2 linked regions of the Homo sapiens genome follow. The protein of the gene in region 1 purifies or fractionates together with the protein of each later gene. This does not show direct contact. Each region holds a gene or a part of one and is shown in the gene's direction. Other genes may lie near its edges.

Region 1 (3,649 bases):
ACTGACCGCTCTGTGCCTCAGTTTCCTTGTCTGTAAAATGAAGATAACAATGGCACTCACCTCACTAGGTGAGTTAAAACATGTATCATGTAGAACAGCACATGGCTCACAGCAATGGTTAGCTCTGTTCCTGTTTATCGTTGTTTTTATGCTCTGCATGGTGAACTCCTATTCATCCTTCAATACCCAACTCAAACATCACTCTGTTTTCCCTCCCACCCTTGTCAGTAGCTCATTGCCCTCTCTGGATTCTGGGCCACGGTTGCAGGGAAGGACTCCGTGCATCTCTAGGTCACCAGCCACTCTCACAGACCTTTGGTGCCTGAGTCCCATGTCTCTTGCAGGAGAAAATGCACAAGCTCTTGGAGGTGTACGAGCAGCTGGGTGGGGAAGAAGACATTGTCAACCCGGCCAATGAACTGATCAAGGAGGGCCAAATCCAGAAACTGTCAGCCAAGAACGGCACCCCCCAGGACCGCCACCTCTTCCTGGTGAGCCTGGCCCCTGCCAGCCCAGCCGCAGAGCCTCCCTTGCCATTTGCCTCAAGCCCAGGGCAGTGCCAGGAGGGCTCTGGCTGCCCAAGGACATGGCTCTTCTGTGGCCTCTCCTACTGGGACTGTGGCTCCCTCTGAGACCCTCAGCATCCCTCCCCCAGCCATAGGGAGCCTCCCTCCTCCACATCCAGACACCAAACTTTTGCCAGTGGCTCTTCCCCATTTGCTGCAAATATCTCATTTTTTAATCCCTCGTAGCCCATACCTCTTTCGTCCCCAGAACTGAGCAGACTTCAGCTTGTAGCAACCAGGACAGCACAGAGAACTGTAGCAGTGAATCACAGTTTCAACTATTCCTGAGCCAAACCCTGGCCGGGAGGGAGGGGGAAGGTGGGATGGAAGTGTAATTCGAGACCCCCCCGGGTGCCATGGCGCGGTAGAAACAGATGTGGTTCTTCTTTCCTCCTCCATTTTCCTCTAGCTTCTGATTCTCCTTGAATAAACAATTATTTCTTTGAAAGGTTTTTTTTTAAGTTTTTAAAAATTACGTTAACTAAAACTCATTTTTGCTTTACAGTTCTGAGTTTTGACTAATACAGTTGTGACCACAATCAAGTTACAGAACAAGTTTTTTTTGTTTGTTTTTGTTTTTGTTTTTAAGACAGAGTCTCGCTCTGTCACCCAGGCTGGAGTACAGTGGCTCAATCTCGGCTCACTGTAACCTCCACCTCCCAGGTTCAAGCAATTGTCCTGCCTCAGCCTCCTGAGTAGCTGGGATTACAGGCGTGCGCCACCACGCCCGGCTAATTTTTGTATTTTTAGTAGAGATGGGGTTTCACCATGTTTATCAGTCTGGTCTCGAGCTCCTGACCTCAGGTGATCCACCCACCCAAAGTGCTGGGATTACAGGCGTGAGCCACCTCACCTGGCCAAGTTACAATTTGATCACTGCCCCCGCCCACCCCCCCAGTTCCCTTGTCCCACCCCTTTGTGAGCAAGCGCTCGCCTGCCCTGGCAACCATGGATCTCTTCTCTGTTTCTAGAATTTTGCCTTTCCCAAATGTCACATCAATGCCATGAGATGAGTCTGGCTCCTTTAGCTCACCATGTGGGTTTGAGAGATTCATCCATGTTGGTGAATGTATCAGTAGCTCATTCAAAAGATTTGGTTTGGCTGGACGTGGTGGCTCATACCTGTAATCCCAGCACTTTGGGAGGCTGAGGTGGGCGGATCACCTGAGGTCAGGACTTTGAGACCAGCCTGGCCAACATGGCGAAACCCCATCTCTACTAAAAATGCAAAAATTAGCTGGGCGTGGTAGCACCCGCCTGTAATTCCAGCTACTCGGGAGGCTGAGGCAGGAGAAGCTCTTAAACACGGGAGACGGAGTTTGCAGTGAGCCAAGATTGCGCCATTGCACTTCAGACTGGGCAACGAGAGCAAGACTCCATCTCAAAAAAATAAAAAAAGGTTTTTTTTTAAATTATACAATTAGCTCATGTTCATGGTTTAAAAATTTAAAAATAGAAATGAACAAAAATAAAGCTAGCGACTAGAGTCTCCTCACTCAAAGATGTAACCATAGTTAAAATTACTGCACATATCTTTTAAAAATATTTTTCACTTTATAACATTAAAAAAAAATGAAAAGGATCCCATGTGAGAAGCTCACTGGGGCCCCTGGGGGGACCTGCGGGCAGCTCTCGTTCCTCACCTGTGCCATCCCTCTTGCAGTTCAACAGCATGATCCTTTACTGTGTGCCCAAGCTGCGGCTCATGGGCCAGAAGTTCAGCGTCCGGGAGAAGATGGACATCTCAGGCCTCCAGGTGGGTGAGCTCCTCCATCTCAAACCTGTCCCCCTGGAAGGGGCACTGAGCAGGACTGGGGACACCAGGCTCTGGCCGCTGAGGCACTCACCTCTGTGCAGCCTGGCACCCCTACCTGCTTTTCCAAGCCATAGACCCTATCTGTGACCAAGGCATTGTCTCAGTCCTGGTGCCCCAGGCTGGAAGGGCAGGATTCCACCCTTCTCTGCTTGGCCCACCTGCCACGTTGCTGCCAACTCCCCTTTCTGCAGAGCCTTGGAGGATGCAGGGGGCAGTAGGGATGGCACCAGGACCTGGACTGAATCCTGTCACCTGTGAGACTGGGACTCGGGGCCCTATTTACAAACCCAAACATGAAGCCCAGGGTTGCAGGGAGCAATCCTGGCTGGGGCGGGGGCCGGCTTCCCTTGTCTGGTTCCTGGGTCCTGAGCTCTTTCCTGTCCTCCTGCACCGGAGCCGGGGGGAGGGTTCCAGGCAGATCTGTAGCATGGTCCAGAATGACCTTCTTTTTTTTTTTTTTTTTTTTTTGAGACGGAGTCTCGCTGTCACCCAGGCTGGAGTGCAATGGCATGATCGTGGCTCACTGCAACCTCCACCTCCTGGGTTCAAGGGATTCTCCTGCCTCACCCTCCTGTGTAGCTGCGATTACAGGTGTGTGCCACCACACCCAGCTAATTTTTGTATTTTTAGTAGAGAAGGGGTTTTGCCATGTTTGCCAGGCTGGTCTCGAACTCCTGACTTCGTGATCCACCCGCCTTGGCCTCCCAAAGTGCTGGGATTACAGGCATGAGCCACCGCACCCAGCCTAGTCAGTCATTATTTTTAATGGTATTTCTTAACCTGGAGTGCAATGGTGTGATCTCGGCTCACTGCGACCTCCACCTCCTAGGTTCAAGGGATTCTCCTGCTTCACCCTCCAGAATAGCTGTGATTACAGGTGCGCGCCACCACGCCCAGCTAATTTTTGTATTTTTAGTAGAGACGGGGTTTCACCATGTGGTCAGGCTGGTCTCAAACTCCTGACCTCGTGATCCACCTGCCTCGGCCTCCCAAAGTGCTGGGATTACAGGCATCAGCCACCGTGCCCAGCCATGACCGATTTTTTGTAGAGAAACACTAGAAAAGTGGTTTCTTCTAACTACTATAAAAAGCTGGGCACGTAGTTTCGCTGGCTCACGCCTACAATCCTAGTACTTTGGGAGGCTGAGGTAGGAGGATCACTTGAACCCAGGAGTTCGGGACCAGCCTGGGCAATGTAGTGAAACCGTGTCTCTATAAAAAATAAAAAATTAGCCAGGCATGGTGGCGCACATCTCTATTCCCAGCT
Region 2 (3,649 bases), on another chromosome or scaffold:
CCCGTGGTCCCCTTCGCCAGGTACGAGGACTTCCTCAGCTGCGCCCAGCTGCTCACCAAGGACGAGGGGGAGGTCAGTGGCTCCTGGGGATAGCTCCTGGGAGATGGGCTGGCTGGGTGGCAGCCTGTAGACTCAGGACACAGACTCTGACTTTTCATGAATTTTCATGGCACATGGATCCTGTGGAGGCCTGCTGTGTTGGGGGTGTGGTGGGGGCCTGGAGCATCCTGCTTGGGTGGGGGAGGGGCCAGGGCATCCTGCTCAGGTCGGGGAGGGCTGGGGAATCCTGCTGTCTGGAGCCATACCTGTCTGCGGCCTTGGTCCCTGGGAGGGGTGGGTCCGGTGTGCCCAGCTCTGGCTGTCACACCAGTAGGTGCTCACACTCCCCACACCCGACTCAGGCCACTCAGGCCCGTCACAGGCTCAGAAACCAGGACATCTTTTATTTATATCTTGCTTCCTTCCCAAAAGAATTTGAGCTGGCTCCCAGGACAGATGAGCCAGCCCTCCCGTCCCCACCCGTGCAGGTGCTGGTCTGCAGCCCCAGGTGGCTCAGGGCCAGGGAAGGACTGTTTGCCTTCCCTGCGGCCATGTGGGAGATGAGGGCTCACTATCTGGCAAATATTTGTGTCTTGATAAGTGAGCTGAGTGCTGGCCCTGACATTCCTCCACGGGCCCTGTAGAGGCTCACCCCTCACACCAGCTCCTTGGAAGCAAGTTAGCTTCCCAGGAGGTCACAGCTGGGCCCTGGCCACTCCTTGAGGGGAGGTGGAGGTGGTGGAGCCCTCTGGTCTGTTGGGGCTGGGCTGCCGTAGCCCCCACCTCCCTTCTCTTTGCCCACCCCTCCTCGCAGTCAGAGAACAGTCAGGGCCCTCATTGCCGGTGTTTGAAATTCTGTTCTTCATTCCTAAGGGCACTCTGGAGTTGGCTAAACAAGTGAGCAACCTTCCTCAGGCAAATTACAACCTGCTCAGATACATCTGCAAGTAAGCGGCTTGGCAGGAGGGAACCACACTTTCCTGCACTGGCTCCACGCTCCCCCAACCCCACAGCGAGACACGCAACTCTTCCTTGTCAGAGGGGGGCCCGGGTCATTCCCCACCCTGCACAGCCTCAACCCAGCGTGGACGAAGCAGGGAGTGGAAAAGCACAGACCCTGAGTTCACGAAGCTTACAGTCCCATGGGAGCAGCTGGTTTTAAACAGACCTGGGTAGATAATTCCAGAAGGGACATACCCTCTGTCCCTCCTGGGTGCCTCTTGCCATCCTGTCCCCCCGGCATCTGCCCCTTGACCCCAACCCTTCATGTATCCCCATCCTAGACACTGAGAAGGGGAATGCAGGGGCGGCGCTGACTGGGGTCTGGGACTTCCCAGAATTTGTGCCCACTACAATTTGCAGAGTCTTGTCCTCCTTTCACACAAATAGCGGTGGGCCCTTGTCCCAGTGACTTTTACTTCTGATGGCCCTCTTGGGCCCCAGGGGAAGCCTTCCCTCATCGAGCCTGGCAGAGGCAGGCTACACCCAGTGGGCAAAAGCCCACAGGCAGCAGGGCTCAGCAGGGGTGTGGCGGTGCGTCCAGGCCGCACACAGGAGACTGGGCATCACAACTTGCTTCTTTGATGACTGCTGCTTCCTTACTTTGCAGGTTTCTGGATGAAGTTCAGGCATACTCAAATGTCAACAAGATGAGTGTCCAGAATCTGGCAACCGTTTTTGGACCTAACATTCTGCGGCCACAGGTAGAGGACCCAGTAACCATCATGGAAGGTAAGTGGGAGGTGTACCTGGTGGCCCTGGGTGCTGCCGGGGTCTGGGCTCATCTTGGTCCACGGCAAGTCCTTGGAACCATCCCAGCCCAGGGCCAGGCCAGCAGGAGGGGTGGCTCAGGTGGCACATCTCCATCTCTGGGGACTTGGCAGGAACTTCTGCAGACCTCACCCCCGACCCCCATGAGGTTCAGCTATAAGATAAAAAAGGAACTTTGCCCTGCGATGGGCAGCAGCAGGTCACTGGGTGCAATTAGAATAGCCAGGGGTTTCTGTGGATGGAAGAGGCTGGAGGGATGGGAGAGGTCAGCACTTTTGCCCTTGAACACAGACATGTTTGCTTTTCTTTTACAATTAAGCAATTGTCATAGGTTCCTGGATGTCAGCTTTGCAAACCCTGGAGAATTTCTCTATGATAAATAACAATAAGTGATTAAAAATAGCAGCAACAGCAGCCGCTTTCAGTAAGCTTCTACCAAGTGCTTTGTTTGTATCATCTCATTTCAGGCTTTACAACCAGCCTGTGCTGTGGTAATCGCCCCCACTTTACAGATGAGGAAACTGAGGCCAAGAGAGGCGAGGGGACTCACCAGAGGCCAGTCAGCCAGACTTAGCAAAGGGCACAGGTGTAGGCTGCCATAGAAAAGACAGCCCACCTCATAGGGCCCATGGAACACTGTCCCCAGTGGAGTATGCATGAGAGACGTGCTGCTCAGACAGGAAGCCCACAGCTGAGGCTGTTCTTGCCCTTATCCCATGTTGAGGGACGTGGCGGAGTGCTTTTGCTCAAGTCCGCACTTTGGTCAGCCCTGGCTGGGTCTCCCACCCCAGGGCCCCTTGAGGCCAGGAAAACACAAGCTCCTACCTGCCTGGTGGTACAGATGCTTGAGGGAGGAGGCCTGCCCTGCCTGCTTCATGGAGTTCCTGCTTCACCTAGGTTCTTGGCCTCAGAATTCCTTCCTTGACTTCTTCCAGGATTCCTAGTCAACTTCAGTGGGAGAGTCCACCCTGGCACTCAGCCCTCCCTCCTACCGGGGGACCTCCTAGCGTCGGGCCTTTGTGGTGAGGGTGGCAGGAGGGAATGAGGCAGCTGGATAGATGCCCTGGTCCTTCCTGCACTGCCCACCTCCGCTGCAGGCCCCCACCCCACCACCGTAGGAACTGAGTCCCCAGGACTGGGGGCTGCATCTCAGGGGCCTTGGCCTAGACACGGGGGATTGTGTGTGTGCGAGATTATATGTATGTGGGATTCTGGGGGGTGAGCAGGGTGCACTATGTGTGCAGTTGTGTATGGGGGAATTTGGGGAGGCTGCGGAGGGTGCATTGTGTGTGCAATTGTGTGTGGCGGATTTTGGGCAGTGGGTGGGGTTCATTGTGCGATTCTGTATGGGGGGATTTGGGGAGGCTGGGTAGGGGATTTGTGTGTTCACTTGTGTGTGTGTAGGGGCTTTGGGGAAACTGGGTAGAGTGCATTGTGTGTGTAATTTTATGTGTGTGGGATTTTCGGGAGTGGGCATTGTATGTGCGATTGTGTGTTGGGGGATTTGGGGAGGCTGGGTGGGTGCATTGTCCAGTTGTGTGTGTGTGTGGGACTTTGGGGGTGGATGGGGTGCATTGTACGTGTGATTGTGGGGGGTATTTTAGGGGGTGGGCGGGGTGCATTGTGTGTGCAATTGTATGTGTGTGCCCCCACACAGGAAAGATGGCTCTATTCCCTGTCCCAGAGCCCTATGCTCCCAGAGTGTGGACATTCAGGCATGGCAGTTGTCAGCAGCACAGAGGGGTGACGTGGGGCAGCCGAGAGAGTTCTGGCATCTCAGGTCCCAGGTTCCAGTTCCAACCTGCCACCTGCTCACCGTGCAGCCTTGGTGCCTGCTTCC

The links.
Region 2: the proteins of FGD3 (region 1) and ARHGAP22 purify together in Homo sapiens (affinity purification with western blotting; one study listed by BioGRID and IntAct). This does not show direct contact.

What each region holds. Positions count from the first base shown.
Region 1 is NC_000009.12:93,013,508-93,017,156, forward strand, and holds part of FGD3 (FYVE, RhoGEF and PH domain-containing protein 3), read left to right. Parts: exon of another isoform or gene 1-344; coding exon 345-491; exon of another isoform or gene 492-987; intron 988-1,419; exon of another isoform or gene 1,420-1,437; intron 1,438-2,229; coding exon 2,230-2,322; intron 2,323-3,649. UniProt on the Homo sapiens protein: Promotes the formation of filopodia. May activate CDC42, a member of the Ras-like family of Rho- and Rac proteins, by exchanging bound GDP for free GTP. Plays a role in regulating the actin cytoskeleton and cell shape.
Region 2 is NC_000010.11:48,451,425-48,455,073, reverse strand, and holds part of ARHGAP22 (rho GTPase-activating protein 22), read left to right. Parts: coding exon 1-72; intron 73-912; coding exon 913-986; intron 987-1,648; coding exon 1,649-1,770; intron 1,771-3,466; coding exon of another isoform or gene 3,467-3,649.